Regions from separate parts of the Homo sapiens genome. Here region 1 is linked to region 2. The links come from fine-mapping of genetic effects on gene expression. A gene starts in region 2. The other region holds a variant in brackets. All regions are shown on one strand. Distances are from middle to middle. Region 1 overlaps FAM171A1 (family with sequence similarity 171 member A1). Region 2 holds the start of FAM171A1-AS1 (FAM171A1 antisense RNA 1).

What was found. PIP is the estimated chance that this variant, and not a neighbour inherited with it, causes the effect.
Region 1: its variant is fine-mapped to the expression of FAM171A1-AS1 in spinal cord (GTEx, PIP above 0.99). The same link has a PIP of 0.9 or more in cerebellar hemisphere.

The regions. Positions count from the first base shown.
Region 1 is chr10:15,232,774-15,248,207 of GRCh38, forward strand. The region is part of intron 5 of FAM171A1 (family with sequence similarity 171 member A1); the gene reads right to left. FAM171A1-AS1 (FAM171A1 antisense RNA 1) reads left to right here. Exons shown (of 3, transcript XR_007062068.1): 2 at 4,746-4,891; 3 at 8,374-8,466. Among named protein-coding and RNA genes, the nearest start is that of FAM171A1-AS1, 32 kb to the left of the region's middle. The variant G/A (reference allele first, on the strand shown) is at 6,888.
Region 2 is chr10:15,200,844-15,216,277 of GRCh38, forward strand. It overlaps FAM171A1-AS1 (FAM171A1 antisense RNA 1), which reads left to right and starts at 7,744. Exons shown (of 3, transcript XR_007062068.1): 1 at 7,744-7,828. FAM171A1 (family with sequence similarity 171 member A1) reads right to left here. Exons shown (of 8, transcript NM_001010924.2): 7 at 15,153-15,267; 8 at 10,800-13,758. The coding sequence ends at 12,072. LOC105376434 (a long non-coding RNA gene) reads right to left here and starts at 6,557. Exons shown (of 4, transcript XR_930699.2): 1 at 6,533-6,557. LOC107984211 (a long non-coding RNA gene) reads right to left here and starts at 10,494. Exons shown (of 3, transcript XR_001747379.2): 1 at 9,450-10,494; 2 at 9,173-9,355; 3 at 7,414-8,356. RefSeq lists an enhancer at 1-726 and a silencer at 9,223-9,272.

The sequences.
Region 1 (15,434 bases), 32 kb after region 2:
AAGGGGATTTGGAGTCTGAAGAAATCACGTTTTGTGTCTCCCCCTTCCCTAGGATGTCCCATGAGTGTGGGAAACACTCAACTCTACTGAGCTAAAGTTCCTTTCTGATAAAGACGGGAGTCCCCCACCTCCAGGGTTGCTTTGGGAATAATGGTGTAAAATGTTGGTTTATAGGAATACCTGTTTTTCTAATGGATAAGCTCAGCTAAGAATGAATAGATAAAAACATTGTTTTTTCAGGCCAGGGGCAGTGGCTCACGCCTGTAATCCCAGCACTTTGGGAGGCTGAGGCAGGCAGATCACGAGGTCAGGAGATCGAGACCATCCTGGCTAACACGGTGAAACCCCGTTTCTACTAAAAAATACAAAAAATTAGCTTGGCGTGGTGGCCGGTGCCTGTAGTCCCAGCTACTCAGGAGGCTGAGGCAGGAAAATGGTGTGAACCCGGGAGGCGGAGCTTGCAGTGAGTGGAGATCACACCACTACACTCCAGCCTGGGTGACAGAGCAAGACTCCGTCTCAAAAAAAAACAAAAACAAAAACAAAAAAACATTTTTTTTCCCTAAAGGATCTAAGTTGTGATCCCATTTTTCTTCCCCTTCAGTTTAGGAAAACTTCAAACTGCATACTGGAAATGGCTGGGCTGCCAGATACAAATACGTGTACATGGCGTACTGCAGGGACAAGCCAGACACTTCTGTGGAAGCTTCTAGTGAAGGACATTCTGCACATGCCGGGTGTATTCAGGGTGTGTGTGTGTGTGTGTGTGTGTGTGTGTGTGTGCATGTGTGTGCGTAAAAATAATTTTAAAGGGGTGATTCAAAGGAAGGGGCAAAAAGAACCACGATGGCCTGGTGTGGTGGCTCACGCCTGTAATCCCAGCACTTTGGGAGGCCGAGGTGGGTGGATCATGAGGTCAGGAGATGGAGACCATCGTGGCCAATGTGGTGAAACCCCATCTCTACTAAAAATACAAAAAGTAGCTGGGCATGGTGGCACATGCCTATAATCCCAGCTATTCGGGAGGCTGAGGCAGGAGAATCGCTTGAACCAGGGAGTCAGAGGTTGCAGTGAGCTGAGATAGTGCCACTGCACTCCAGCCTGGTGACAGAGCAAGACTCCGTCTCACCAAAAAAAAAAAAGAACCACGACATCAAAAATGTGATACATGGCTGGAGTGTACTAGGTGCTTTACGTAAATGATCACACTTAGGTCTTATGCAACCTTGGAAGGGAGATTTTACAGATCTCATATTTGAGGCCAGAAGCATTAGGTCCAGAGACATTAGTAATTTGCCCAAGGACGGGCCCTCTCCTAACATTTACAGAACTTGAGAAGTTTCAGGCGTGATGAAGGCACAAAACTACATTCGAAAGGAAAAAAAAAACATACAAAGTGTTGATCTTCTTTTAAAAAATCATGTGTTAAGTGAGTGCTAACATAAAAGAGATTATAGCTCATACAAAAGTATAAAACCAAAACAAACTTACGAAAGAAACAAGAAACAAAGCTACAGTTTCAAAATAAATTTCGAATTAAAAACATCAACTTAATGGTGTACCTGATGACATATTGTTACCCGTTGAGGGTAGCTGCCCAGGTTCTTGGCGTTTTGAACAAAGAATTGGACAAAACGCACAAGCAAAGCAGCCAAAGCAGAAATTTATTTTAAACGAGAGTACACTCCACAGACTGGCAGAGGCTACAGCAAGAGGCTCGGGAACATTGGTTACAGAATGTTCTGAGGTTTAAATACCCTATAGCAGTTTCGTATTGGCTCACTCTAGTAGCCCATGAGCAGTCTCTTTGGTTACGGGAGGGGAAAAGTAGCCTAGCGACCAGTCTGATTGGCTGCAGGAGGGGACCGATCAGATGTACTTTTCTTTTTTTTTTTTTGAGACGGAGTCTTGCTCTGTCGCCCAGGCTGAAGTGCAGTGGCGCGATCTTGGCTCACTGCAAGCTCTGCCTCTGGGGTTCACGCCATTCTCTTGCCTCTGCCTCCCGAGTAGCTGGGACTACAGGCACCCACCACCACGCCCGGCTAATTTTTATTTATTTTTTGTATTTTTAGTAGAGACGGGGTTTCACTGTGTTAGCCAGGATGGTCTCGATCTCCTGACCTCGTGATCCGCCTGCCTCGGCCCCCCAGAGTGCTGGGATTACAGGCGTGAGCCACCGTGCCGGGCCGATCAGAGGTACTTTTCATTTTCCAACTGCCAGGCAGAAAAAGGAGGGGTTAAAAAGTAGCCCCTATGCCGGGCGTGGTGTCTCACGCCTGTAATCTCTGCACTTTGGGAGGTCCAGGAGGGCCGATTACCTGAGGACAGGAGTTTGAGATCGGCCTGGCCAATATGGCCAAACCTCGTCTCTACTAAAAATACAAAAATTAGCTGGGCAGGCGCCTACAATACCAGCTACTTGGGAGGCTGAGACAGGAGAATCGCTTGAACCTGGGAGGCAGAGGTTGCAGTGGGCCGAGATTGCGCCACTGCACTCCAGCCTGGGAGACAGAGCGAGACTCTGTCTCAAAAAAAAAAAAAAAAAAAAAAAAAAAACCTCTGATATCCAGTCAGCTGAGTCGGCCTTAGGTTCTCTACCTTCAGACCCAATTCTCCTGCCTCAATATTACTGAACTGAACTTGTCACTTGCAACATACATACACATGACATCCATGGCTAGGTGGGGCTTCTTTCGAGCTTGGCATGACTATGATTCAATTCTTCCACTACCTTTCTCAAACTGAACTGTAAAACTTCCCATCTCTCAACATACTTTAATTCCACCTGTCCTTATTATGCTGGTGTTGTATCATTTGTATATTACATTTACCATGGTTCATTCTCATTTGTCCTATTCTATCCAACAGTGTGTTCATAAATGCAGACTCAGGCAATAACATTATGTGATCGTTTTAAATTCTGTATTGAATTCAGATGATGCAGAATATTTTCATGTTAAGTTGTAAAAGATCATGATCAAACCCCAAACTCCAAATTTGAAAATCCTTGCAGATGATTCCCAGGCCTCAAAGAAGCGGTCTGGATCTACAGGCTTCAGTGGGAAACGCTGAATCTCACTGGGGAAACCTTGGATACCTGGAACCTTCATCTCTCCCCAGTACCCATCCTCGGGGTCCTCACCTACAAGGTGAGGATAACACAGGTTGCTGGAAAGAGCCACGGTGTTCAGCCAGGAGATAGGAGTGAGCAGAGCCAGGGAGCACATTAGGCTCACACACTAGACGAACACTCGCTTTGGACATCAGAGACTTACGTTCCTGCTGTACCCAAATTAAAAGGCACCACTTATTGTGAACTTTAAAGTTATTTGGAAGTTCAATCCCAAACAATGATGTTTCCAAATATGGAACAGCTGGTCAGGTATGGGCCCCGACCAATCAGACTGGATGGCAGGGCCATTCCAGCTAAATAGCAACCTTGGGTGAGACTGGGATGTTAAATTTAAAAACAGTAAGGCTTTCCTGTACCTGTCCTTTTATATCATGCTTCCAAAAAAAAAAAAAAAATCACACACTGCATATGGGCTAAATAATAGCAGCGATGATGATGATAAGAGCGGCAAACACATACGGAGGGTTTTCCAAGCGCCAGGCTCTGTGGTAGGCACTCTCCACTCACAGCAATTCTATGAGGGAGGGGCTGGGGCTATTATGATCCCCATTTTATAGAGGAGAAAACTGAAGCCCAGAGACGAAAAAGGACTTGCTCAAGACCACACAACGAGTCACCAGAGGAGGAGCCGGCATTCAAGACCAAGCCGTCTCGGTGGCTGGGCTGCACACTGCCTCTATCCTGTTCACGAATGCTATCAGCTGTGTCTCATCCAGTGCAATATTCACATCTATCAATAATATTCTACCTTCTAATTACCCACTCAAGTGGAGGCAACTGAAACCAGGTGATACTTAAAAGTACTGAATTCTGAAATATAGTGGCTTTACTTTCCTAGTTCTTTTTCACCCAGGTTAATATTAGAATGATTGTGTTAGATGCTGTCCTTAAAATCCAGGCCAGACTGGGCGTGGTGGCTCACTGCCTGTAATCCCAGCACTTTGGGAGGCTGAGGCAGGAGGATCACTTGAGGCCAGAAGTTTGAGACCACGCTGGCCAACATGGTGATACCCCCATCTCCACTAAAAATACAAAAATATGCTGGGTGTGGTGGCACTTGCCTGTAGTCCTAGCTACTTGGGAGGCTGAGGCAGGAGAACCGCTTGAACCTGGGAGGCAGAGTGAGACTCTGACTTGAAAAAGAAAATCCAGGCCAAATAGCAGCAAACTAAGAGGGCCTTGAGGCTCCTGGGTGATGGGGAAAGCCCGCAGGAAGACACAAATTTGCCACAGATAATCCACAAAGTGAATACTCCATAAGTGGTAACTAAGAATGAAGTGTAAAATAAAACCTCTACAACTCCAAGATCACAAAAGCAGGCTATACCAAGACGGGAAATTCTAGTTCTACATAAAATGATACGTTAAGAGACCTAAGTCCCTAAGAATGGGGTTTTTAAACAAAAGTGCCCCCTGAACCCGATCATACTAGAACAAATGTGATGCTATTATTTTATGAAAGTTCTCATTTTGGGGGGAGACAAACACAAAAGGCTTAATGATTCCTAGGAATGGATTGATAATACAAGATTGTTTTTTGAGTTGCTAGGCAACACTGAAAAACAAATGTCGATGTTCTGAGATCACAGCTTGGTTGTTCTCCCATGGGCAGGACCAGTGCTACCCGGCCTTCCTGCACTCCATTGGAGAACAGGAGTGGTACAGAGCCACTGCGATGCTGAGTCCACAGTGGCAACAGACACCAACTGGCATCTCCATGAAAAGTCACAACTGACCGCCTGGCTGCCAAGATCTTTGGTGAGACAAAGTTTTCACTGAACTGTCATCACACCCAAACAAGTCCCATGCTCTCCGGGTTCTTTGCTATCTGTGATCACTTCAATCGCTTTTTTTTTTTGCAGGTACATTACCCCCTTTTCCCCTACCGGTCTCATTAAAGCCCCATTCACCCCTAAGAGTGATTTTGACATCTGGGAAAGTACAGACACTTTTCCTGAGAGTTATTTCTTTATTTCTAAGCCATAGCCTTGACTCTGAATATTTCCACTGTAAAAAGGCCTATTTCCAATAACAGCTTTCTTAGGGATATGTTGATATTACCTTAGGTAAGTTGAATTCCTCCTTTGCTGAATGCCCTGAACTACGGCATCTATTCTTTTTCAAAAAATAAAAGATGATGCCCAAGGTTCTAAAATCACGTCACACATCTACGCACAGACTTGGTAAAGAAATGAACTCCCTTCTTTCATTCTAATGTTTGGGGGCACAGTGTAGTACTGTTTATCCCTATAATCCAATCACCCACCTCAGTATTCCAATCTGGGTTACTTCACCTAGTCATGTGGCTTGTGATATATAGAGACAAAGATAAGCTAATATTGTAATAATGATTTCACTGAAGACTATTTTTTAAAGAGCAGATTTAGGTTCGCGGCAAAACTGAAAGGAAGGTGCAGATATCCCACATACAGCCCAGACTCCCTCTTGATCAATATCCCCTACCAGAGAGGTGCCTTCGCTACAATTGATGAGCCTGCATTCACATGACATTATCACCCAAAGCTCATCATTTCCATGTTCAATAATAGTTTCATTTTCTTTACGTTGTAAACATAATTTTGTGCTTTAAGAACTCCCACTCTTTGCCGCCCTTCCCCCCCACCCCCAATTAAAAACCCAATGAACCTGAAAAACAATCTTAGATCTGTGTTTTAAATGAGTCTCCACCTTCAAGGGCAAGTTGTCCGTCACTTAGGTAAAAGGACTAATTAAATGAGCTTGTCATAGCCGTAACATTCACCGTCTGAAGTGCAGACGAATCTACTACAGGCCAATTGTGAGTGGGTATTCCTGAGAGCCTGACACGAATGCATCGTACGTGGTAAGAGGCTGGTTCAGTAACCACCATTTCTATAGCAACCCCCACACACTCTCAGGCTGTGTTTTGAAGAGGCAGTGAAAACTGGATTCTACAATGTAGCTTCACTCTTAGAATATGCTTTTATTTCTATCATCTCATTAGAATGAGAGTATCCAAATCATATAATCCAGGTTGCCATTAAACAGGAGAAACTTATCAAATACAGGATCCGTAAATCTTTATTTATTCTTTTTGCCACTTGATGTCCATCGCTTTAAATTCAAACCACTGACCTGGTTTGCCTGTGACCATTCCCCAGGGCAACAAGTCAGATGTCCGTCTGACAACCTGTACATCAGACAGCCATCTGCTGCCCCAGTTACAGGATAAAGAAAGGGTAAACGTCTGTAAAATAGAGCTGACATAATCATCTCTTACTGTCCAGAAAGGCTCAGCTAAGAGGCATTCGCTATGACTAACAAAACTTCCTTTGACAGACATGGGAAGGAAAACTGCTTCTTTCAAAGGTCAAATTGGCCACTGCACAATAAATATTCACTTTATTTATTTATTTATTTTTATTTTTATTTTTTTTTGAGACAGTCTCACTCTGTCGCCCAGGCTGGAGTGCAATGGTACAATCCTGGCTCACTGCAACCTCCACTTCCCAGGTTCAAGGGATTCTCAGCCTCCCAAGAAGCTGGGATTAGAGGCACCCACCACCACACCCGGCTCCAGCTAATTTTTGTATTTTTAGTAGAGATGGGGTTTCACTATGTTGACCAGGCTGGCCTCAAACTCTTGACCTCAAGTGATCTGCCCACCTTGGCCTCCCAAAGTGCTGGGATTACAGGTGTAAGCCACTGTGCCTGGCTACAAATTCATTTTAACCCATTCCCCTCACATACATCTTGACACCCGGGACACAGAGAG[G/A]GCACAATTGGATCATTACATATTCCGCTGATTCTTTAAGGAAAAGAGATCCACTAAATAGAGTGCTCCTTCGCTCTACGAATCACAGCATTTTAACAAAATAGCTTTAACAAAACATGTCAATGTGACAAAAGTCTCGATTCCAGTATGGGTGGAATATCCTTTATCCAAGATGCTTGGGACCAGAAGTGTTTTGGATTTTGGAATATTTGCATTATACTTACCTGCTGAACATACTTAATCTGAAAATCCAAAATCCAAAATGCTCCAGTGAGCATTGCCTTTGGGCATGACCTTTGAGTATCATGATGGACCTTAAAAAGTTTTGGATTTTGGGGCATTTCAAACCTTGGATTTTTGGATTTGAGATGCTCAACTTATATATGCAAGTCGTGCTTCTTAAAAAATTTATTTTAGGCTGGGCGTGGTAGCTCATGCCTGTAATCCCAGCACTTTGGGAGGCCGAGGCAGAGGCGGATCACTTGAGGTCGGGAGTTCGAGACCAGCCTGGTCAACATGGTGAAACCCCATCTCTACTAAAAATACAAAAATTAGCCTGGTGTGGTGGCACACACCTGTAGTCCCAGCTAGCTGGGAGGCTGAGGCCAGAGAATCACTTGAACCCAGGAGGCAGAGGTTGCGGTGAGCTGAGATTGTGCTACTGTACTCCAGCCTGGGTGACAGAGCGAGACACCATCTCACACACACACACATAAAATTATTTTTATTGAGGGTCCATATAGCAATTAGCCAACTCATGCTGTTGTAACATGCTAAACAAATTCAATGTTATTTGTATTCTAAGATGGTGTTAATCTAGTTGATCACCTTCTAATGAATATATAGGTTGAAATATGAAGATGCCAATTTCAAGAATGGGAAATTCTTTGCTTGTTCCAAAAGAAAAAAATTAAAAGACAACTGTGAAAAACGGCAGCATCAAAAATTGATCCCACTCTCACGGGGTTTGAAAGAGAGCATCTCTAGTTCTCTCTCCTAAGAGTAAACTTTCAATTTCCTGGCAGTCAAGGATTAAAGTGTGTGAGTTAGAGTTAAAACATGGATATACTGAGTTAGTGTTAAAACGTGATTTTGAGGCAGGGTGGTGGCTCACAGTCGTTGTAATCCCAGTGACTTGGGAGGCTGAGTTGGGAGGATCACTTGAGGGCAGGAGTCTGAGACCAGTCTGGGCAACACAGCAAGACCCTATCTCTACAAAAAAAAAATTTACAAATTAGCTGGGCATGCTGGCACACACCTGTCGTACCAGCTACTCAGGAAGCTGAGGTAGGAGGATCTCCTGAGCCCAGGAGTTCTAGCTCCGATTGTACCATTGCACTGCAGCCTGGGTGACAGAGCAGGACCCCTTCTTTAAACAAACAAACAAACAAACAAACAAACACAAACAAACAAAAACTACCATGTGATTGTATCATTTGAACAGAAGTCCCATCAAACCATAAAATAATTTCATCTTTCTTTACAGAGTTTGAGGTCTGGCCCTACAATGAAGGTGCTGTCACTCTGAGTATCAGTTGTCAACTCTGGCAAAATACAGGGGAGCTGTCAGCTAACAGGAAATATGGACATTGGGGCTGTCTGGGCACCCCAGTTTGCTCCTGTAGAGTGTGGAATACACTGGCACTGTAATATTAGAATGGAAAGAACTTCTGGAAGGCATTTAGACCAGAGGTCACAATTTTTTTTAAATTTTTTTATTTTTTTCTGTAAGAGGACAGATAGTAAATATTTTTGGTTTGTGGGGATATAAGTTTCTGTTGCAATGATTCAACCCTGCGTTGTAGTGCAAAAGCACTCACAGACAATATGCCAGCAGATGGGCCTGGCAAGGTTCCAGTGAAACTTTATTTAGGGATGCTTACGTATAAATTTCATGTAATTTTCGACCCATGAGATATTCTCCTTTTGATTCATTTCCCCCATATTTATTGACGTACAGTTGAAAAACAAAAATTTTATGTACTTAAGATGTCTGACCTGATGTTTTGATATATACATCAAGCTAATTAACATATCCATCACTTTACAGTTACCATTGTTTTTTCATCTTCTTTCTCTTGGTGGTGAGAACACTTTGAATCCACCCTCTTAGTAAATTTTAAGTATACAGTACAGTCCTATTAACAACAGTTAGCAGGCTTTGCATTAAGTCTCTGGAGCTTAATCATCCTGAAGAACTAAAACTTTGTACCCCTTGATCAACATTCCCCCATTTGATTTTTTTCTTTAATCATTTAAAAATGTAAAAATGATTCTTAGCTTTCAGGCCACAGTTGGCCAAACCCAATTTAGATGAAAAATTATTAATAGATTCACAAGTTGCTATCTGTGCCATTTCTGGCTGTTAAACAATTTGGAATTGGCAGTTATTTTGATTTACCTCAAAAATAGATAATTTAAAGTATTAAACTATTTGAGATGATCGATTACTGTAATCATAAATAGCAGCTAATTATTAAATTGTTTTATGTGCTTAAGATGTGTTGGCCCATTCCCCATTTTTTTCCTGATCTAATACCGTCTTTAGATTTTTTATTTAACTAAAATATTTTAATTTCTACTTAGATAATATTACAATTAATGTAATAGCAACAAAAGTCTTATGAAATATGCAGGCTTCTATTGAGTATAATAAGTGAAAAAACATATGGTTTCTTTGAAATGTCCATCTTAAAGTTTTCAGAAAACATTTTAATTCATTTGGTTATTTTTGAATGACTATCCACAAACGTTGGCTTTTTTCTGCATACATGCAATCTGTTACAACCAGGAATTTGGCAGTTACATTTTTCATAGTAAATGTGAAGTTAAAAAGACCATTTCGGCCGGGCGCGTTGGCTCACGCCTATAATCCCAGCTCTTTGGGAGGCTGAGATGGATCACTTGAGGCCAGGAATTTGAGACCAGCCCGGGCAACATGGTGAGACCTTGTGTCTACGGAAAATAAACAATAAAACAAATTAGCCAGGTGTGGTGGTGTGTGCCTGTCGTCCCAGCTACTCAGGGGGCTGAGGTGGGAGGATTGCTTGAGCTTGGGAGGTCGAGGCTGCAGTGATCTGTGACTGCACCACTGCATGCCAGTCTGGCTGACAGTGCAGGACTCCGTCTCAAAAAAAAAAGGAAGCGGAAATAGGTCAACTTCACAATGAAGATTCCCAATGTACTGTCATGGTTATTTTTTCAGAGAGGAAACAGAGAATGGGCTAACTTATATTTCAGAGGCTTCCTAACAATGCACACACCTCTGTTTTCACCAATTTCTGTATTGTATTCATTTCCTATTGCTGCTATAAAAAACATTACCACAAATAATAGGGTCTTAAAACAGCACAGATTTACTTTCTTATACTCCTGGAGGTCAGAGGTCCAAAACCAGTTTCTCTGGTCTCAAGTCAAGGAGTCCACAGGGCCGGTTTCTCCTGGAGGCTCAGAAGGGAGAATCCCTTGCTTGCTGATTTTGGCTTCCAGTGGGTGCCTGTATTCCTTGGCTTGGGTCCCCTTCTCGCATTTCCAAAGTGCATGGCTCCGGCCTGCGCTCCCATCCTCACACTGCCGTCTCCTAATCTGATTCTGGCTCCTCTTGCATCCTGCTCATAAGGGCCCTTGTGATGGCCGTGGGCCCACCCAGAAAGTCCATGAGAATCACCCCATCTCCAGATTCTTCATCACTTCCACCAAGTCCCTTGACCGTATAAGGTAATATCCACAGGGCCTGGAGATTAGGATGCAGAGATAGTTCCATCTGCCATGGACATCAAAAACTTCTTTAAGTTTGTTATTTGTGAACTGTATATAAAGTCCACCGAGGAAAGCAAGGATGCTGCTTTCATACACCTGTGCCATATAGTTACAGTGCACACAACCCATACAGGAATCCCTAGGGAAGGCTTCCTTATATTAGGAGCCCCAGCCTTATTCCTCCATATTCAAATATACTCATTAAAAAAGAGAAGGCAAAAATGAGAAGCAAAAAATAAACAGCAGGGATGGAGGCTCCAAGATAGAAAAAAAATCCAATAGAACTGTCCTCCCTCTAAACAAGAGCTTAAACATCATCCTTTTATAACGTGTACATATACATATATACATAAAGGTAAATTCTATGTATACAGTCAATGTATACATTGACTGAGCAGCTCACCGCAAGCTCTGCCTCCCGGGTTTACTTACGCCATTCTCCTGTCTCAGCCTCCTGAGTAGCTGGGACTACAGGCGCCCGCCACCACACCCGGCTAATTTTTTGTATTTTTAGTAGAGACGAGGTTTCACCGTGTTAGCCAGGATGGTCTTGATCTCCTAACCTCGTGATCTGCCCACCTTGGCCTCCCAAAGTGCTGGGATTACAGGCATATCAGAGTATCTTAAATTGCCTTTTAAAGATATCTAAATTGGCTAGACATGGTAGCTCACGCCTGTCATCCCACGACTGTGGGAAGCTGAGGTGGGTGGATCACTTGAGCTCAGGAGTTCGAGACCACCTAGGCAACATAGTGAAACCCCATCTTTACTAAAAAAATACAAAAATTAGCCTGGGGTGGTGGTGGGCACCTGTAATCCCAGCTACTTGGGAGGCTGAGGCACTAGAATCACTTGAACCTGGGAGGCGGAGGTTGTAGTGAGCTGAGATCTTGCCACAGCACGCCAGCTTGGGCGACAGAGTGAGACTCCGTCTCAAAAAAGCCCCCCAAATTAGCTAGGCCTGGTGACCACCCTTGTACTCCCAGTTCTTCAGGGGGCTGAGGTGGGAGGATTGCTTCAGCTCTTGAGATAGAGACTGTAGTGAGCTATGATCACACCATTGCACTCTAGCCTGGGTGACAGAGGGAGACCCTGTCTCTTAAAAACAAAAGAAAACAAAAAACCCTAAAATTATTCTCATGTGATTCAACCATTCAACAGACATTTTAGTTGGGTACCTAGCATTATGCCAGAAACTGTTATTGATCACAAGCATTCAGAATAAATAGACTTGGTGAGGGCATAGGGAGTAACTGGTACCCACACAGACTTGGTGAAGGTGCAGGGAGTGGCTGGTACCTGCACAGACTCGGTGAGGGTGCAGGGAGTAACAGGTCCCCGCACAGACTCAGGGAGGGCACAGGGAGTAACTGGCACCCGCATACCGTGCCGTTCAAGCTGATAGGACCATTGCAACGTGCACAATGTGCTCAGGATGAGGCCGGGGAGGAGACTGGAAAGGATCGGCTGTGCTCGTGAAAGTGACAAGCTGTCATTTACTTTTGTGATGACTAATTTTGTCTGACAACATGGCTAGGCCACAGTCCCCAGAAATGTGGTTAAATATGTCCAGATGTGACTGGGGAGGTATTTTGTTTAGAAGAGATAAACTGTTCAGCCAGTTGACTTTGCTTTTTTTTTTCTTATTTATTTATTTATTTTTTGAGACGGTGTCTCACTCTGTCATCCAAGCTGGAGTGTGGGGACGCTATCTTGGCCCACCTCAACCTCCACATCCTGGGTTTAAGTGATTCTCCTGCCTCAGCCTCTGGCGTAGCTGGGATTATAGGCATGCACCACCACGCCCAGCTAATTTTTTGTATTTTTAGTAAAGATGGGGTTTCACCATATTGGCTAGGCTGGTCTCAAACTCTTGACCTCAGGTGATCTGCCTGTCTTGGCCTCCCAAAGTGCTGGTATTACAGGCATGAGCCATGGTGCCCGGCCCAATCTGTTGACTTTGAGTGAAGCAGATCACTCTCCACAGTGAGGGAGGGCCTCATCTCATCAGCCTGCCTTGCAATTTTGGACTTGCCAGCCTTCCCAATTGTGTGAGCCATTCCTTAAAATCAATCTCTCCAAATATACATATATCTCCTATTGGCTCTGTTTCTTTAGAGAATCCTAATACACTCATTATAACAACAGTGGGTACTATTATTATTGCCATTTCACAGTGGAAGAAACTAGATCAGAAAGGCTAAGTAACTTGGCCAGGGCCACACAGCCAGTGGGTGGCAGAGCTGGCATTCCACACCACTGTGCCCCCCAGACTCCCTGCTCTTAACCACACTCTCCGCTGCTTCTCAGTGCATTGACCTGGGTGCGCTTCAGCGCCCCCTGGGAGGGCTACAGGGGACAGGCAGACCATACAAGGGGGTGTATATTCATATCTCTTACAAATGCAAATAGAGGTAAGTAATTTGCCCAAGGTGGGACTCACAGTTTTATAAGTAGCAGAACCCAGGTTTTCAGGAAACAAAACACAAACTCAAAGCTCTTTCCATTCTCTTGCCCACTTCCTCTGTGTTTTTCTTTATCCATTTTCTTCCTCCCTTTAGAATTCCGGCATTCTTCAGAGACTCTTGGTCACACATCCCTCAGGCTACTCCCTCCTGGAGGCACAGTGTACCTCAGGTCCCCACCATGACCTTGATGCCCCCCAAATTATCAGGCTCACAGAGAACACACACCATCAATAAAGTGCCCGTCTCGCTTACTGCAGGATATGTGAACAGATTATCAGGCTCTCAGAGAACACACACCATCAATGAAGTGCCCGTCTTGCTTACTGCAGGATATGTGAACAGACAGCATCACAATCCACTTAACAATATCAAGTTTACTGTGGCTGGTAAAATCAATGCATTCCACACAAATAATTACAGTGTCTCTATTAATTATTTGGAAAGTAAAAATAAGACAAAACAAAAATCCCCTCCAAAAGCCCAACAGGCGTTTCTTTTAAAATATAATTCCTAGAACTCTGTTTTAACTGATTCGAGGAATTAGATATCTTTGAAAATATACTGATATCAAAAATCTCCCAATTATCTTCATGCATGGTCTAACAGTTTTAAATTCTGAACTGGCTTATTTGAAAACTGGTATTTTCTTTTTTCGAGACAGTCTTGCTCTGTCATCCAGGCTGGAGTGCAGTGATGCGATCTTGGCTCACTGCAACCTCTGCCTCCCAGGTTCAAGGGATCCTCCCAACTTAGCCTCCCAAGTAGCTGGGACTATGGACATGTACCACCACAGCTGGCTAATTTTTTGTATTTTTAGTAGAGATAGGGTTTCACCATGTTGGCCAGGTTGGTCTCAAACTCCTGACCACAAGTGATCTGCCCGCCTTGCCTCCCAAAGTGCTGGGATTATAGGTGTGAGCCACCGTGCCCAGCAGCAAATTGATATTTTCAAGCTTGACTTTCAGGGCACTAGGAAGCAAAGGGGGGTAAGAGGCCCCACGCTGCCAAGACCCTCAGCCCGAGCACATGCTCGTGGGCTGGTATCATGAGTGCAAACCAATACAACTGTCTGGAGGGAAATCTGGAAATATGTTTTAAAAGTTTTAGAATTTTGTACATTTTGTAACTCAGCAATTCTTCTAAAATGTCATCCTAAGGAAATAACCAAGGCTGTGCATAAAGATTTAGCTAGAAAGATATTTTCTACAGCATTGGTTAGAATAGTAACATTTTTTTCTAATTGCAGGGGATTGATGAACCAAAGTGAAGTATGATATATCCACAGGGTGGAATACTATGGACTTATTAAAATTGACATGGCAGAATAATGATGCTATGGAAAGATGTTCATGCTGTACAAATGTATTTTTATGTATATATTATTGGTTGATTGAGTGAGTGAGTGGTCTCGTTCTGTTGCCTAGGAGGTGCAGTGGCTCGATCATAGCGACATCACTCACTGTGACTTTGAATTCCTGGGCTCAAGCAATCCTCCCGCCTCAGCCTCCCAAAGTGTTGGGATTTCAGGTGTGAGCCACTGCACCCAAACAGTACCCAGCACATGATCTCATTTCTGCTAAATATGCTTTGTAGAAGGCAACCTCTCAGATAGCCAGCCCCAAGTGACCCCTGCCTCCTGGTATTCACTCCCCTGTATAGTCTACTCTCAGTGCTGGTCTATACCAGTGTGGGTCTGTGTGACCAACAGCCTAATGGAAAGAAATGATGGTATGCTGCTTTTGGGATTAGGTTACAAAAGACCATGACCTCAATCTGGGCACTTGGGCTTTTAAAAGGCTGGTCTCAGACTCTTGGCCTCAAGTGAACCACCCGCCTCAGCCTCCCAAAGTGCTGGGATTACAGGTGTCAGCCACCACACCCAGCCTACTATATCATTTTTATTTACTCTTGGATCATTTGCTCAGGGGAAAGCAAACTACCGTGTAGTAAGCAGCTCTATGGAGGGTCCCACGTGGTAAGGAGGTAAGGCCTCTGGTCAACAGCCGGCAAGGAAGTGAGGTCTGCCTTCAGCCCTGTGAGTCACACTCATTAGCCCCAGCTGAACACTGCTGGAGAGGACCACAGCCTTGACTCACAGCTTGACAGCCGCCTTGTAAGAGACTCTGAGCCCTACCACCCAGCTCGGCTGTACCTGGATTCCTGACCCCCAGAAACTCTGAGATACTGGAGCTCACTGTTGTTTTAAGCAGCTAACTTTTAGGGTGGTGTTACACAGCAGTTGATAACTAATACCTACGTGCACTGTGAAAGCCCTAGAAGGACAGAATTCAAGATATATTAGTGGTTTTCTCTAGGTGGT
Region 2 (15,434 bases):
TCACACTTGTGAATAATTTCACAAAGAATGTGGTGACTTCATTCACCAAGGATTTCTGGAATCCTGAATTCCAGGTCAGTGGTAAAGCCTCAGAGGACAGAGGGAGGAAAAGGATTGAGTCATACCAAGGCATTTTTTAATTATTCCAAAGGTCATTCTCAAGTTAAAAAAATCACAACATCATTGTTATTATGATGGTATTCCTGAAAATCAAGAGATTCTAATTCACACAAGATATTCCATCATTTGACAGCTGTCACCAAGGGTAAAATTTTTTTTTAAATTATTCAGTTGAAATAATTAAAGTTTGGTTGAAAAAGTCAAGATGTTATATGGGGGTCAGTTCAGCCCTATATTTTCTAAGTACGTCAATCTGAAGTTTCAGGCACAAAGAATAGACATCCAAAGAAATTCAACTTGCAGCCAGGTGTGGTGGCTCACACCTGTCATTCCAGCAATTTGGGAGGCTGAGGTGGGAGGTTGCTTGAGGCCAGGATTTTGAGACCAGCCTGGGCAACATATCCATTGATGCTGTCTTATCCCGGTGATGATCTGAGGGGAGCTAGCTGCAGTATTATAGAAAAATGACATCTTTAAAAAATGACTATCTTTCATATGAGATCCTCAAAAATGCTCTATGGCCAAGAATTGTCTCTGTTCTCTATTGCTACTTGTCTGAAGATGTGCCTCTTCAGCTTTTACCCTTTAATCCAGAAAAGGCAAACCTCATCCCTGAGAAAGACCTTATATTCCTTTTCACTTACTCAAGAAAAAGAAGAAAATTTTTCTGTCCTCTGTCCAGGAAAAATGTAACTGATCTTCAATGCAATTTGAGCTTTTCTCTGTTTCCAAGTAGATATTTTTTATTTGCCATCATTATGCCCCATTTATGGGTCTCATCATCTCAAATGTGAAATTTCCCACTGCTGGGCATCTGATCTCATTTTAACCTTCTCTCTTACCTTCTCTGGCCTTTGAAGAGTGACTAATGTACTAGGACTCCAAAATAACCAACCTCGGAGAGTAGCTATCAAGTTATTTTTCTGAGGCTCGCAGGATCATTTAACATTACTATTACTGTGTTTCTGGAAGACATTTATAATTATGTTATACTGTTTATAAAATGGTTAGCATTCTGGGAAACAAAGCTTTTAGCTTTCCATAATGAAAGCAGCTCTATTGAATAAGCATTGCAAAGTGGCAGAGAGCACCGTTCATAAATGAAGTTACTCTGCTTCTTTATTTGTCTGTGAAATGACAGAAGAAATAACCTCACCAGTTGACTGTAAGGACCACAGGACACGTTTAGAGCCCTTCTGGAAATGTGGGAGGTACTAAGTGTTAGCCGTGGTTCCCAGCCCTGGAATTCATCTCTCTAAGGCAGCTGTGTGGGGTAGAGAGAATACTGCACTTCTGAACACAGCATGTGAGTTTCAGTGCAAATCCTGGGTCTTCGCCACTGTTTTGGTAAGAATTTATTTCAGTGTCTTTGAATGCAAGTGTGGATTAACATCACCTGCCTTAGCTATACAGCAGGGTAGCTGTGAGAATCATAACACAATAATGTAATATGAGGCCGGGCGTGGTGGCTCACGTGGTGGCTTACGCTGGGGCTGTAATCCCAGCACTTTGGGAGGCCGAGGCTGGCAGATCACCTGGGGCCAGGAGATTGAGACCAGCCCGGCCAACGTGGTGAAACTCTGTCTCTACTAAAAATACAAAAATTAGCCAGGCATGGTGGCACACGCCTGTAGTCTCAGCTACTTGGGAGGCTGAGGCAGGAGAATCACTTGAACGTGGGAGGTTGCAGTGAGCCGAGATTGTGCCACTGCCCACCAGCCTGGGTGACAGAGCAAGACTGTGTCTCAACAAAAAAGGAATGTATTATGAAAGTGGTGTGTAAAATGAAACTCTTTAGGGAGTTATTATTATACTTTGTCTTTTACAGTTGGTTCCCTGGTTTTGAACCTGCCTTGGCAAAAACTATAACAGGAAATGATGACAGTGAAAGAGATCTGATCCAACCAACCCCCATTTTGCTTTTAGCTTCCAAGCTGCCCATAGTTATTCCTGGGTTTGGGCCAAGCTAACTTTGGGAGAGACTTAGTTTACAGTTTCAATGATAACAGCCCTTTCCCCAAACTAAAGCACCTTTGTAAAGCTAATGAAAGACAATCAGGTTAGGAGACTGATAGGAAGCTGAGTTCTGCTAGGGTGTAGACAGAAATGGTTACCAGCCATTGTTCCGGAGGCCACAAGATGTACAACTTCCCCAATCACTCCTGCAAATAGCATCGTATCATAGAATTTAAGATTGCCCTTTTGAGATGCCTTTTTCAGGTTTTTGCATTTCTGATGACTGACCAATGGCTTCACCTGGACCCACCAACCAGTCCTGGGGCCACACCCAGAAGCAGACTCAGTGCTCACAATGACCATTCCCCACACCCCTATGATTGCACCCCCAACCAATCAGCAGCACCCGTTCCCTTGATTGCCAAACTATCCTTGAAAAATCCTAGCCTCCAAATTTTCAGGGAGGCTGATATGAATAATGATAAAACCCTGGTTTCCCATTCAGCCAGCTCTATGTGGGTAAAACTCTTCCTCCATTACAATTCCCCTGCCTTGATAAATTGGCTGCATCTGGGCAGCAGGCAAGAAGAACCCACTGAGAGGTTACAGTTTCATTCCTCAGGTCTATTAATCAGGTTTTCCAGAGAAACAGAACCAATTGGTGTGTATATAAAAGAAGATTAGGAGGAATGGGCTTACAAGATGATGGTGTTTGTGAAGTCCCACGATCTGCCATTTGCAAACTGAGACCCAAGAAAGCTGGTGGTGTAACTCAGGCTGAAGGCCTGAGAACCAGGGGGCCAATGGGGCTAAGTCCCAGTCCAAGGGCAAAAAAAGATGAGATGAGATCACCCAGCTCAACAGTGAGGCAGAAAAACAAAAGGAGGCGAACTCCTGTCTCTCTGTTTTGTTCCATTCGGGCCCTCAATGGATAGCATTTAAAAGACAGAAACCCCTAAATTATGAATTTCAGAGATTATATAGGAACTACATCATAGCTGCCCCCATCCCTTCTAGAGACTTGGAGAGAAACCCTAAACCTTAACGTTTTTTTTTTTTTTTTTTTTTTTGAGATGCAGTCTTGCTCTGTCACCCAGGCTGGAGTGCAATGGCACGATCTCAGCTCACTGCAACCTCTGCCTCCCAGGTTCAAGTGATTCTCCTGCCTCAGTCTCCCGAGTAGATGGGATTACAGGCATGTGCCACAACATCTGGCTAACCTTTTTTGTATTTTTAGTAGAGAACGGGGTTTCACCATGTTGGCCAGGCTGGTCTCAAACTCCTGACCTCAGGTGATCAACCCGCCTTGGCCTCCGAAAGTGTTGGGATTACAGGCATGAGCCACTGCGCCCAGCCAGAAATCCTAACTTTCTAATGGAAACAAATTGTCATAGGGAAGAGAATGGGAAGGCCCTATGTGTTACAGCAAATGCCAGTGCAGATCAATGAATGCAAAGGCACAGCTCCAAGAGAGATAAACCCGCAAATCTCTCCAGAGTAATTCACGATCTGTTTTCCAAAATGATTAATATTCCCTCATCCTTTAATCCAGTGTTAAATTAAGTTTAGCCTAAAGCGGCCTCCTTGTAAATTTGGCCTAAAGGTTTCTCCCACATAGGGAACTATAACGGGATGTACAAACAGACTGGTAACTGCCCTTACCAATCACCGAGTTCTGGCCAATCAAAGGGGCCAACTGTTTAAACTGCCTTCAAGTGAGAGAAATGGTAAGCAGTAGGCAATTTGGCTATCTCTGGACCTCACGTCACTTTCCTTTGCCTCTGACATGGTGGCAGTGCCGGAGTCTCCCTCAGCCTATTCTGGTTCAGGCAGTAGGGTAGGAGCACCTGGCACTGATAACTTGACCGTACTCTGAGAATGACCCTGTAGGGCGGGCACACCTGAATGTGTATTCAGAGTTCCATGCTAGGGAATCTGGGAGTAGCCCACCCCGAGATCCATTCCTTTTCTATGAAAAACATTTGATCCCCCACCCTGGCCCATGGAACACAGGTCGTACAGGGGATTGAGACCCTTTGTTTTGGGTTAAATGAAGGTTGCCAGGTGGAATTTGTTAGAGGGAGGGTGTAAAATGAAAATGCTATCTAAACTGCATGCATTTTGCAAGGATTTGCAGTTTTCCTGCTTGGCCCACTGCCACTGGACTCTCTCCCCTGTATGTAAGCCCCCAATAAAACCCACGTCTCCTTCGCTGGTGCGGGATCTCGTCTTTGGCCTCTTGTACCTGGTGCCATCCCTACTGAGATTAATAGGGGTCTGGCATGACAAAGGGGGCTGCCCGATTCGAGAATTGTTCTTTGCTCAATTAAACTGTTACATTTGTCTAGAGTTTTTAATACTAGGTTGCCAGTAACTTTTGCTCAGGAAACTGAGCTACACAGAAACATGAAAACATTCATGTTGTTGGCCAGGCGCGGTGGCTCACACCTGTAATCCCAGCACTTTGGGAGGCCGAGGCGGGCGGATCACGAGGTCAGGAGTTCAAGACCAGCCTGGCCAACATGGTGAAACCCCATCTCTACTAAAAATACAAAAATTAGACGGGCATGGTGGCGTGTGCCTGTAATCCCAGCTACTTGGGAGGCTGAGGCAGAAGAACCTCTTGAACCCAGGAGGCGGAGGATGCAGTGAGCCAGGAGCGCGCCACTGTACTCCAGCCTGGCGACAGAGCGAGACTGCGTCTCAAAAAAAAAAAAAAAAAAATTCATATTGTTTCCTGACAGCAAGTGGAGTCAAAAGAACTTGCCTGGATTTGGGGGTGAGGTTGACAGATGTTTGTAGGGTGACCCTGAGGTTTCTGGCCAAGGAAACTATATGGTGAGGCCATTTATTGGGATAGTACATAGGCAAAAACTAGGAGAACTGGTTTCCCTGATTTGCGGAGGAGTAGGGAATTCACGGGACAACATGAAGATAATAAATAGAGTTTTAGGTGCTTGAGGATGCTCAGTCTGCAGTTTGAACTCAGTGGCAGGCCTGGGATGCAGATACGGACGTGGGAGTCCCAAACAGGCAGTGATGTGAAATTGCTCGGGCAAGATGGCAGGAATAACCTGGACCTTGGGAAGAGGACGGACGGTAGAGCCAAGACATGTTGACACAGTGTGTCCACCTTCGGTTTTTCAACAGGCCATTGTGAACAGGAAGAGAGAAATCTGTTAGGCACTGCTGCCCAACTTGACATGCTATTTCACATAAATGCTTCCCCAACTGCAAATCTGGGGTATAGCTGTTAATCGACCCCAGAAACAAAGAGAAAAGTGAATAATTCCCTGAGGTACCCAATGGAAGGTGCTACCAGGCTGTAAAGTAGCTTCAATGTTTCTAAAGCAGTGGTCTACAAGCCTGTGTATGAGAATCAGCTAGGGAGAGTTTTTGTTTGTTTGTTTTGTTTTTAAACCAGTTTCACCTACAGAGATCCTAATTCAATCAGTCTGTGGTGGGGCCCAAATGCTTTAATATTTTTTTTCCAGCTCCCAGGGGATGCTAACATGTATCCATGGTTTGGATCCATGTCCCCGCCAAATCTCATGTTGAAATGTGATCCCCAGTGTTGGAGGTGGGCCTGGTGGGAGGGGCTTGGATCACAGGGGTACCTCTCATGAATGGCTTGGTGCTGTTCCCTTGCTGATGAGTGAGTCCACGTGAGATCTGGTTTAAAACTATGGCACCTCTCTTGCTCCCACTCTGGCCATGTGTGATGCCTGCTCCTGCTCTGCCTTCTGCCATGATTGTAAACTCCCTGAGGCCTCCCCAAGTAGATGCTGGTGCCATGCTTCCTGTACAGCCTGCAGAACCATAGCCAGTTAAACCTGTTTTCTTTATAAATCACCCAGCCTCAGGTATTCCTTTACAGCAACACAGGAATGGCCTAACACCCCAGGTTTGAGCAACACTGTTCTATAGTTACATGCACATTATCTTATTACCATAGAGCAACTCAATTCAAGAATTCAAGAACGGCTGCCATGTTTTACAGAGGTATTGCTTTCAGTAGCAAATTATGGTGATTGGGGACTTACCCTAACATTATTGCCTTGTAGACAGTGTCCTAACACATGTTTCCAGACAAATCTTTAAGAAGGCTGCACCTTCACAGAGCTCACTGGCTATCTTCAGACACCAGGCAAAACATCCCCTTTGAGCAAAGGAGATATTACTCAGCTGAAGCTTGCAGAAAGCAGTACGATGGGGCCGGGCACCATGGCTCACGCCTGTAATCCCAGCACTTTGGGAGACCGAGGTGGGCAGATTACTTGAGGCCAGGAGTTCGAGACTTGCCTGGCCAACATGGTTGTATTAGGGTTCTCTAGAGGGATATAACTAATGGAATATATATATTATATATAATAATATATATATATACACACACACACATGCACATACATATATACACACATATGTATATATAAAGGGGAGTTTATTATTAACTCACATGATCATAAGGTCCCACAATAGGCCGTCTGCAGTCTGAGGAGCAAGGAGAGCCAGTCCGAGTTCCAAAACTGAAGAACTTGGAGCCTGATGTTCGAGGGCAGGAAGCATCCAGCACGGGAGAAAGATGGAGGCTGGGAGGCTAGGACAGTCTCTGTTTTCACATTTTTCTGCCTGCTTTGTATTCTAGCTGTGCTGGCAGCTGATTAGGTGGTGACCACCCAGATTAAGAGTGGGTCTGCCTCTCCCAGCCCACTGACTCAAATGTTAATCTCCTTTGGCAACACCCTCACAGACACGCCCAGGATCAATACTTTGTATCCTTCAATCCAATCAAATTGACATTCAGTAGTAACTATCAAAATGGTGAAACCCCATCTCTACTAAAAACACAAAAGTTAGCCATGGTAGTACATGCCTGTAGTCCCAGTTACTAGGGAGGCAGAGGCAGGAGAACTTCTTGAACCCAGGAGGCAGAGGTTTCAGTGAGCCAAGGTAGCGCCACTGCACTCCAGCCTGGGTGAAAGAGTAAGACTCTGTCTCAAAAAAACAAACAAACAAAAGTAATAGAATGGGGAAAAAGAGATGCCACTGTTTTGTCTACCATTTTCCTTAAAAAGTAGCTGAGAAGCAGCTGATATAGCCCCAAAATGACCATTGTCACACTAGAGCAACAAGATTAGGGAACTGTAAGATACTAGTAATAGTTCAGAGAAATAAACTGTTTTTGTAATTTACAACTTACAAAAACTTTGATATGTATTGTCTCACTTGAATTCAACTCACCCAGAGGTGAGGAGAGCAAATACCCCCAACCTCTTGCTAAAGCATCAGAAGTGAGTCACCTGTCTGTTGGTCAGAGCCAGGCCTGACACCCAGAGCTTCTTCTCCAAATCCTAGATTTTAATAATTAGCATGGTTTACTTATGCCTTAGACCCTCATTATGGAGTGCTGAATGCATACTGTAGACAGATAGCAGAGGGTGCCAGTGAGGTGAGATGGGGCAGCAGCATGCAGAGGTGGCTGCACACTGGGCCGAGTGTCAGGAGATGAGGCCCACCTCTGTGTGGTCACCCATTGCATATGTGGAAAGGTCAACACAACACTTGTGACTTCAGCCTTCAATTTCCTCTGCTGTGAGACCACCAAGCCTCTTTCAGGTTCTTCTATTCCTGCCCATCCTGTTAAGGTGCAAAAGCCTAGCAATGCGAGAATTATGAGCCACTTTGAAGGTACCAAAATACCAACCTGAAACAACTCACAATGGCTGCGAAGAATGGAAAAAACATTTGCCAGGTATTTTAGTGTATATTTACAATTACAGCTTTGAAAATCATTTTTTTTTTTTGGCGGGGAGGAGAAGACTTGCAATTTCTATTTCGCCTGGAGTTTAGCTGGCTTTCTCCCTGATCTATGAGAGCAACTGCCTTTCTCCTTGTCACTGCCTTCTCCTGTTTGAAGGACCATGACAACCATCATGCCCTTTTCAAGTTCTCTGTGATGTCATAAAAGTCCCCAAGACATAATTGCAACTTGCTTTAACTATGGTGTCAATGCAGCAAACAAGAAATCGTGGAATATCAATATGGTTGAAAAATCACCCCCCATTTCTAACTTTACTCATTTTTATGAGGTCCTCTAGGTCTAAACACCTGCATAAGCGATGTCTGTGAGAGGGTGAACACAAGAAATCACACTGAGTTTGTCATGCTTGTGGCCTACGTACCATTCTGTGGCTTTCTGGTTTCCTTCCTTTTTGGTTTTGGTTTCATTTTCTTGGGTGCGATGCCTCTTTGTTTTTGCATTTGTCTGTGCTAGTTTATCCTAAATAAAGTTCCAAATGCACAGGGTCACTATCACTTAAATGATGTTGTGTATCCCCTGGCAGAGCTTAGGGCACACACTTTCTTTTCTTTTCTTTTCTTTTTTTTTTTTTTGAGACGGAGCTTCGCTCTTGTTGCCCAGGCTGGAGTGCAGTGGCGTGATCTCGGCTCACCGCAACCTCTGCCTCCCGGGCTCAAGCAATTCTCCTGCCTCAGCCTCCCGAGTAGCTAGGATTACAGGCACCCACCACCACACCCAGCTAATTTTTGTATTTTTAGTGGAGACAGGGTTTCACCATGTTGCCCAGGCTGGTCTTGAACTCCTGACCTTAAGAGATCCACTCACCTCAGCCTCCCAAAGTGCTGGGATTACAGGCCTGAGCTGCCACGCCCAGCCTTATGTATTTCATTATACAGATTATTATGTATTCCATTTGTAAGTTCTGTCCTATGCATCCTTTATCAGGGACATTTATAATTTAAGTGCATTCATTTCCAGAGAGCTGGCTGTTTAAGCCGTGCACCACTGTTTCTAGCTGGGTGACCTCAATTACTTAACCACTAAGCCTCAACTTCAGTGCAAAACAAAGAAGAATAAACATTCCTTCCTTGAAAGATTTTGAGGATTGAATGCAATGATTGTTTCCAATACATTGTTTCCAGGTAGAGACTCCAGGAACCTCAGTCCCCTTCTCTCCACCCACCTCACCTTGGGGAGAGACCCAGTGGCAGATTCACCCCTGTGCACGCCCACCCCTACTTTCCCAGAGTGGCCCTGTGTGTCTGGACTAAACCGTTACAGGTGGGGAAAACTCACCACTAGGGGGCGGGAGCAAGATGCCTTTGATGGCTGTCGTCCTTCAGACCACGTAACTGATTTGGAATACTGTGACATATTCACCCTTCCACCCTCCGTGGGGAGAGAGAGGATAAATGTGTAAAGTCTGTGGCCACGGTGCTGCATTCAGAGAATCCCACTCTAGTGATCAGCGTTGGCATCCTGAGAAAATGAGAACCACTGAGCCCCAGTTAGGACAACTGTTAAAATGTGATAAAAATCTTCAGCCGACCCAGTTGCCCTTCTGCAAACCCACCTGCTTGTTGTCCTCGGCACACGGCATGCTGTGACTGCTGCTGGCTGCTTAATACATCGGGGCCCATCCAGGTGAGTCTCACCTAAGGAGGAGTCAGCAAAGCAGTCTTCTCCACCCCCATCTTCCTGCCAGATCTCTCAGGATCAGCGCTTACAGTTAATGTGCTACCCGACTTTCCCAGGTAACATGCATTAAATGAGGCTCTTCTAGAAACTGACGTTTTAAGGAGGTGATTCCATTGGCGGCAACCTTAGAGCCGCAAAGGACTGGGGTCAATGACAGCAGAGAGGTCTTCCGGGACTTCCTCCCTCGTCCCTCCTCATCTAGGTCTGGCCCTGGATTTTCCTGGAGGAGCAACTTCCTTATTCTTTTCAGGGGAGCTGACCAACGCCTTCTCCCTGGAGTCTTAGCCAGGTCTGCAAGGATGCCCCTGCCACTTACTGGTGAGATGTCCACTCCCGCGCAAAGGGCGTCTCACTCCTTAGGCCCCCAGGCTCCCATCTGGCTAGCTGTCCCACTGTCAAGGACTTGCTCAACTATTTTCCCCCTTAAAAGCCAAACAGGCAACACCACCACTTGAGAATGAAAATCATCAAAACCACTGTGATTAGTTCTTTGCCTGCATGGAATTCACAAATACTGATTTTGTTGACTGTAAACATAGCTGGCTTAATTTATTTCTGCCAGTTATGTCCCAACACCTCCATTAATGATTTTATTTTGATGAATAGTTTTATACATCTGGGAGGATTCTGGTCATTCTAATGATATCTTCTTGAAGCTCTTCCAAGATGGATCAATACTGACCATAAAACATCAGATTCTTGTTAAGTGCAGACATCCCTCTTTACCTGAAACACATCAAAATGTTATTTGGTGTTCTTGAACAAAACTACAGACAAAGGTGGATTTTTATAGATTTTAACCCTAGAGGAAATTCCTAGGTGTCTAGGTGGTGGGTCTCCAAATACAAGTCTGACAACTGCGTTGCAGACTGCCACCAAGGAAACAATGACAAAGACTTTTTTTTTTTTTTTTTTTTTTTTTTTTTTTTTTTTTGAGACAGGATCTGCTCTCTTACCCAGGTTGGAGTGCAGCAGTACCATCCTCCCACCTCAGCCTCTCAAGTAGTGGGGACTACAGGCATGAGCCACTATAACCAGGTAATTAAAAAAATTTTTTTCACAGAGATGGGCTGAAGTGATCCTGAGCTCAAGTGATCCTCCTCCTTTGGCCTCCCAAAGTGCTGGGATTACAGGTGTGAGTCACCATGCTTGGCCTGACAAAGTCTTAATAACAACTTTGAAACAGATAATGACTCAGAATGAATTCAAATGACCACAAAGACAGTTTTCCTTTTCTTCAGAGTTTATTTTGAATTTTCATTTTTGGATAACCAAGCAGCTCTTTAAGAAGAATGCACAGAAGAGTCATTCTGGCACTTTTGGATAGTACATAAGATTTTCTTTTTTTTTTTTAAATTTTTTTTAATAGTCACATTCAGCTCGCTTGCTCAAACCAGACTCCCACATTGGGTGAGCAAGATGAGCCCATAGGATTCCAGAGTTAATACGTAACCGTATATACAAACAGCCAAAAAACCATAATGGTGCCACAGGGATGGAGCAGGGAAGGGCATCTCTAACGTGTCCTCTAGTCTATCTTCGCTAAACAGAACCCACGTTACACATGATAACTAGAGAGCACACTGTGTTGAAACGAGGATGCTGACCCCAAATGGCACTTGGCAGCATGCAGTTTAAAGCAAAAGAGACATCCTTTAATAACTGTATAAAATCCAGGCAGTTCCATTAAAGGGGTTAAGAAAACCAACAACAACAAAAAGCGAGGGACTGTCTGTTGTCACTGTCAAAAAGGCACTTGGAGTTAATGGGACCAGGATTGGAGGACTCTTAGCTGATACAGATTTCAGTACGATTTCATTAAAAGGCTTGGATGTTAAGAGAGGACACTCAGCGGTTCCTGAAGGGAGACGCTGAGATGGACCGCTGAGAAGCGGAACAGATGAACACAAAGGAATCAAATCTTTACAACCAAATTGCATTTAAGCGACAACAAAAAAAGGCAAACCCCAAAACGCAACCTAACCAAAGCAAAATCTAAGCAAAATCAGACAACGAAGCAGCGATGCATAGCTTTCCTTTGAGAGAACGCATACCTTGAGACGCTACGTGCCAACCTAAGTTCTCAACGACAGCTTCACAGTAGGATTATTGTGATAAAAATGACTCAAGCGATGCAAAAAGTTTCATCTGTTCCCAGAATCCGAGGGAGAACTGAGGTGATCGTTAGAGCATAGCGACATCACGTGCGGTTTCTTAATGTCCCTGGTGGCGGATACGCCGAGTCCTCGGAAGGACATCTGGACACCACTTTCAGCCACCTCCTTGCAGGGGCGACATCCGCCAAAGTCATCCTTTATTCCGAGTAATAACTTTAATTCCTTTCTAACATTTACACGGCAAACAGGAATGCAGTAAACGTCCACGTCCGTCCCACGGCTGGGCTGCCGTTCCGTTTCCTCCACGAACGGGTACGCGCTTCCATGAGAAAGGATATTTGGCAATTTTATATTCCACAGTCAGGTGGGTCTGCGATAGCTCATTTAATGTTAAACGCCATCAGGGGCCTCTCCTCCCGTTTCTGCCAGGGGCTTTTCTTGTCTTCTCCTTGGTCATCATCATCATCGTCTTCCTCTTCCTCGTGGGCAGATCTTCTCTGGTGGGGGCTGGCTGCTGGCTCCGAGGGGGCATCCGCAGTCCGTCTGGTCGTCTCCTCCTGCAGGCTGGGCAGCTGGCCACCACTTCTCCGACTCGACCCCTCCAACAAGCATCGCAGGGCACTGTCCTCGGGGGTACAGACCGTGGTCCCACATTCGCTACCACTCTGTTCCACGTCATCCAGGTACACGAGCTGCGTGTAGGCCGTGCTGTCTGGGGCTCGAGGCTCTTTCTGCTGGTGCTCTTGGACGGGCGGGTAGTTCTGCTGCAGAGACAAAGCATCTCCCCTTCCCTTCCGGGCTGATTTTGGTTCATTCATATCTACGCCAGAGTCCAAACTGGCATCATTACTTCCGTTCCTTCCAGCTCTTTGGAGATCAATGTATGAATGTCTAACGTGAGCGTTGGACCTGCCATCCAAGGAGACGAACCACGCCCGGGGGTGCGGAAGCGGCTTCCCACCCCCAAGCTCCATCAGGGCCTTTTCAGTCAGGAGCTGCACCTCACTGTTCATCTGAGCCAAAGCCGCGTCGTTCAGGGAAGCTGGGATGGAGAGAGACTCCGACATGGATGCGTTCTGAGGGCTCCACTCCCGGGTGCCCGCATCCTGCAGGTGCTGCTGAGAGATGGCCTGGGAAGACAGGGGCTGGGGCTGGATCTGTGAGGACGGGTGTGGGAAGATCCCGGCATGGGGATTGGACAGCTCAGCCTGTAGTCTTTCTATCTCAAGCTGCTGATCAGCCGGGACGACGAGGGGCTGGCTGACATAGGAGTGGTCCCCGGGGAGTTTCATATAATGAGCCGGGATGACCAAGGCAGGCAGTACTTTCCTGTAAACGCTGTCATTGACCTGGTCGACAGAACTGCAGCAGATTAACTGGCCGGGCCGTGGGAAGGACGTAGGTCTCTCGAGGTGATCTACTGATCGCGACATCATACATTCAGTGGGTCTGCGGTCCAGCAGCTGTTCTTTCTCAGGTGATGAAGGCGCGGGGTACAGATGTTCCTGAATGGTGAGTTTGCTTCCCGTGGAGGCTGGACCTTCTCTGTCCTGCTTTTCAAATAAAGGCTGTGAGAGCACGGTGTTGTAACTACCCCTGTAGTCATCATTGCCCGAGGACTCGTAGCCTTCTCTTTCCATAGATTTTCTTGCCTTTAAGGGAAAAACCTCCACTGACTTATGGTAGTCTTTCCCCAGCGTCCCACTTGGAGTGAGGTTATCAAAGGAGATCTGGCTTTTATCCTCTTCCTTGCAAGAGAGGAGCTCCTCCCGGGAGCTAAATTCCTGGGAGGTGCTGTAGGAGAGCTTGAGCATGGGGGTGTGCAGGTCCCCTTCGCCGCCCGGAGACATCATTTCCAAATGGACTCCACTCATCAGTTCCTTCGTGCCGGGGGCCTCGGGGCGGCCGTGGCTGGTGACGGACAGCGGGCCAGGGAATTCTGACGCTCGGCGTGAAAACAGCAAGTTAATGTGTGACATGGACGTGGACTGGTCTCTTTTGGAACTCTCCAGTCCTGCAGGGAGCTGCAGTTTTCTGTGGTGCTGACGAGGTTTCAAGCACTTCCTCCTGCGCCCAAAGACACAATCCAAAGCCAAAGATTAGTGATTCTCACAATGAAAAAGTTTCAAGTTTCAGGTAAAATCCTAATTCTCAATTTCCATGGGGAGAGACAAAACAAAACAAGTCAGGAGCAGCCAAAAGCCTTCTCACCCCACGCCCTGTCTTTTTTTTTTTTTTTTGAGACAGCATCTTGCTTGCTCTGTCGCCCACGTTGGAGTGCAGTGCTATGATCATAGCTCACTGCAGGCTTGACCTCATGGGCTCAAGTGATCCTCCCACCTCAGCCTCCCGAGCAGCTGGCACCGCAGGCACATGCCACCATGCCCAGCTAATTTTTGACTTTTAGTTTTTTTGTAGAGATGGCCTGTGTTGCCCAGGCTGGTCTTAAACTCCTGGCCTCAAGCAATCCTCCCCCTTCAGCCTCCCAAAGTGCTAGGCCTCCATGCCTGGCCCTTATCCTTATTTTATCCTTATTAGAGTAGGATAATCGAGAGATTTCATCTTTTACTGTCTGGAGAGCCCTTTGCCTAAATGAATTAAATGTATGACATTCATTTTTCTATGACTTAAAAAAGTCAACAACTTATTAAAGAGTCTCAAACGTGACTAAAATGCTTTGCATTTTTAAAAATAAAATTTTTCCTCTATAATGCCTTTTTAAAACAGCTAAACTTAAAGGCTTTTATAAGCCAAGTTACTTATTTCAAAGGGGTTACTCAAGAGTTGACAATAAATATTCTTGCAAACTAAACAGACACGGCATCTAAATAAGAATAATTTTTTTTTTTGAGATGGAGTCTTGCTCTGTTGCCCAGGCTGGAGTACAGTGGTGCAATCTTGGCTCACTGCAACCTCCACCTTCTGGGTCCAAGCAATTCTCCTGCCTCAGCCTCCCAAGTAGCTGGGATTATAGGCGTGTGCCACCATGCCCAGCTAATTTTTGTATTTTTGGTAGAAACGGAGTTTCACCACGTTGGCTAGGCTGGTCTCGAACTTCTGACCTCAAGTGATCCGCCCACCTCGGCCTCCTAAAGTGCTGGGATTACAGGTGTGAGCCAACGTCCCTGGCCCAAATAAGAAGAGTTCTGCTTTGCCCTTCAGAGTATCATCTCTTAATCAGCGTTCAGGAATACTCTGAATAAATCAGATGACTATTGTTAAACTCTTTTTCATAACTCCCCTTCTAAGCAATGTTATCCACGCAGCATGCTTTACACATACTATTTGTTAAGTTGCAACTTAGATCACAAATGTGAGTTCTTACTTTTTCATGGGAAGAAAAAGTACTTCAATTTAGAAAAATTAAAAAAAAAACCCACCTCCATATTAATGCTTCTAAGTATCAATTGCCCAAGAAACTGTGAATTAAAAAAGATATTGCCAAAATGGTAACACTTTACCTGCAATAATATAAAAGGAGACACAGCAAAACCAAAAGTATGAAAGCCATTCCTCCTAAAATGGCCAAAAGAAACACCGTGTGATACGTGGTAATGTCCTGTGTTACAACGGGACCTAGAAGGTCAGAAAATGGCATTTAGAGTTTTGAACACCTTTAACTCAAAAGAGGGATCATTCATTGAGAACGCAGTGTCTTGTGCTTACTCTTCTTAGCTGGGGCATAGAGCAGTGGCCAGAGGAAAACGCCCTTGGATCATGCACTTGGGGTACCACCAGCATTG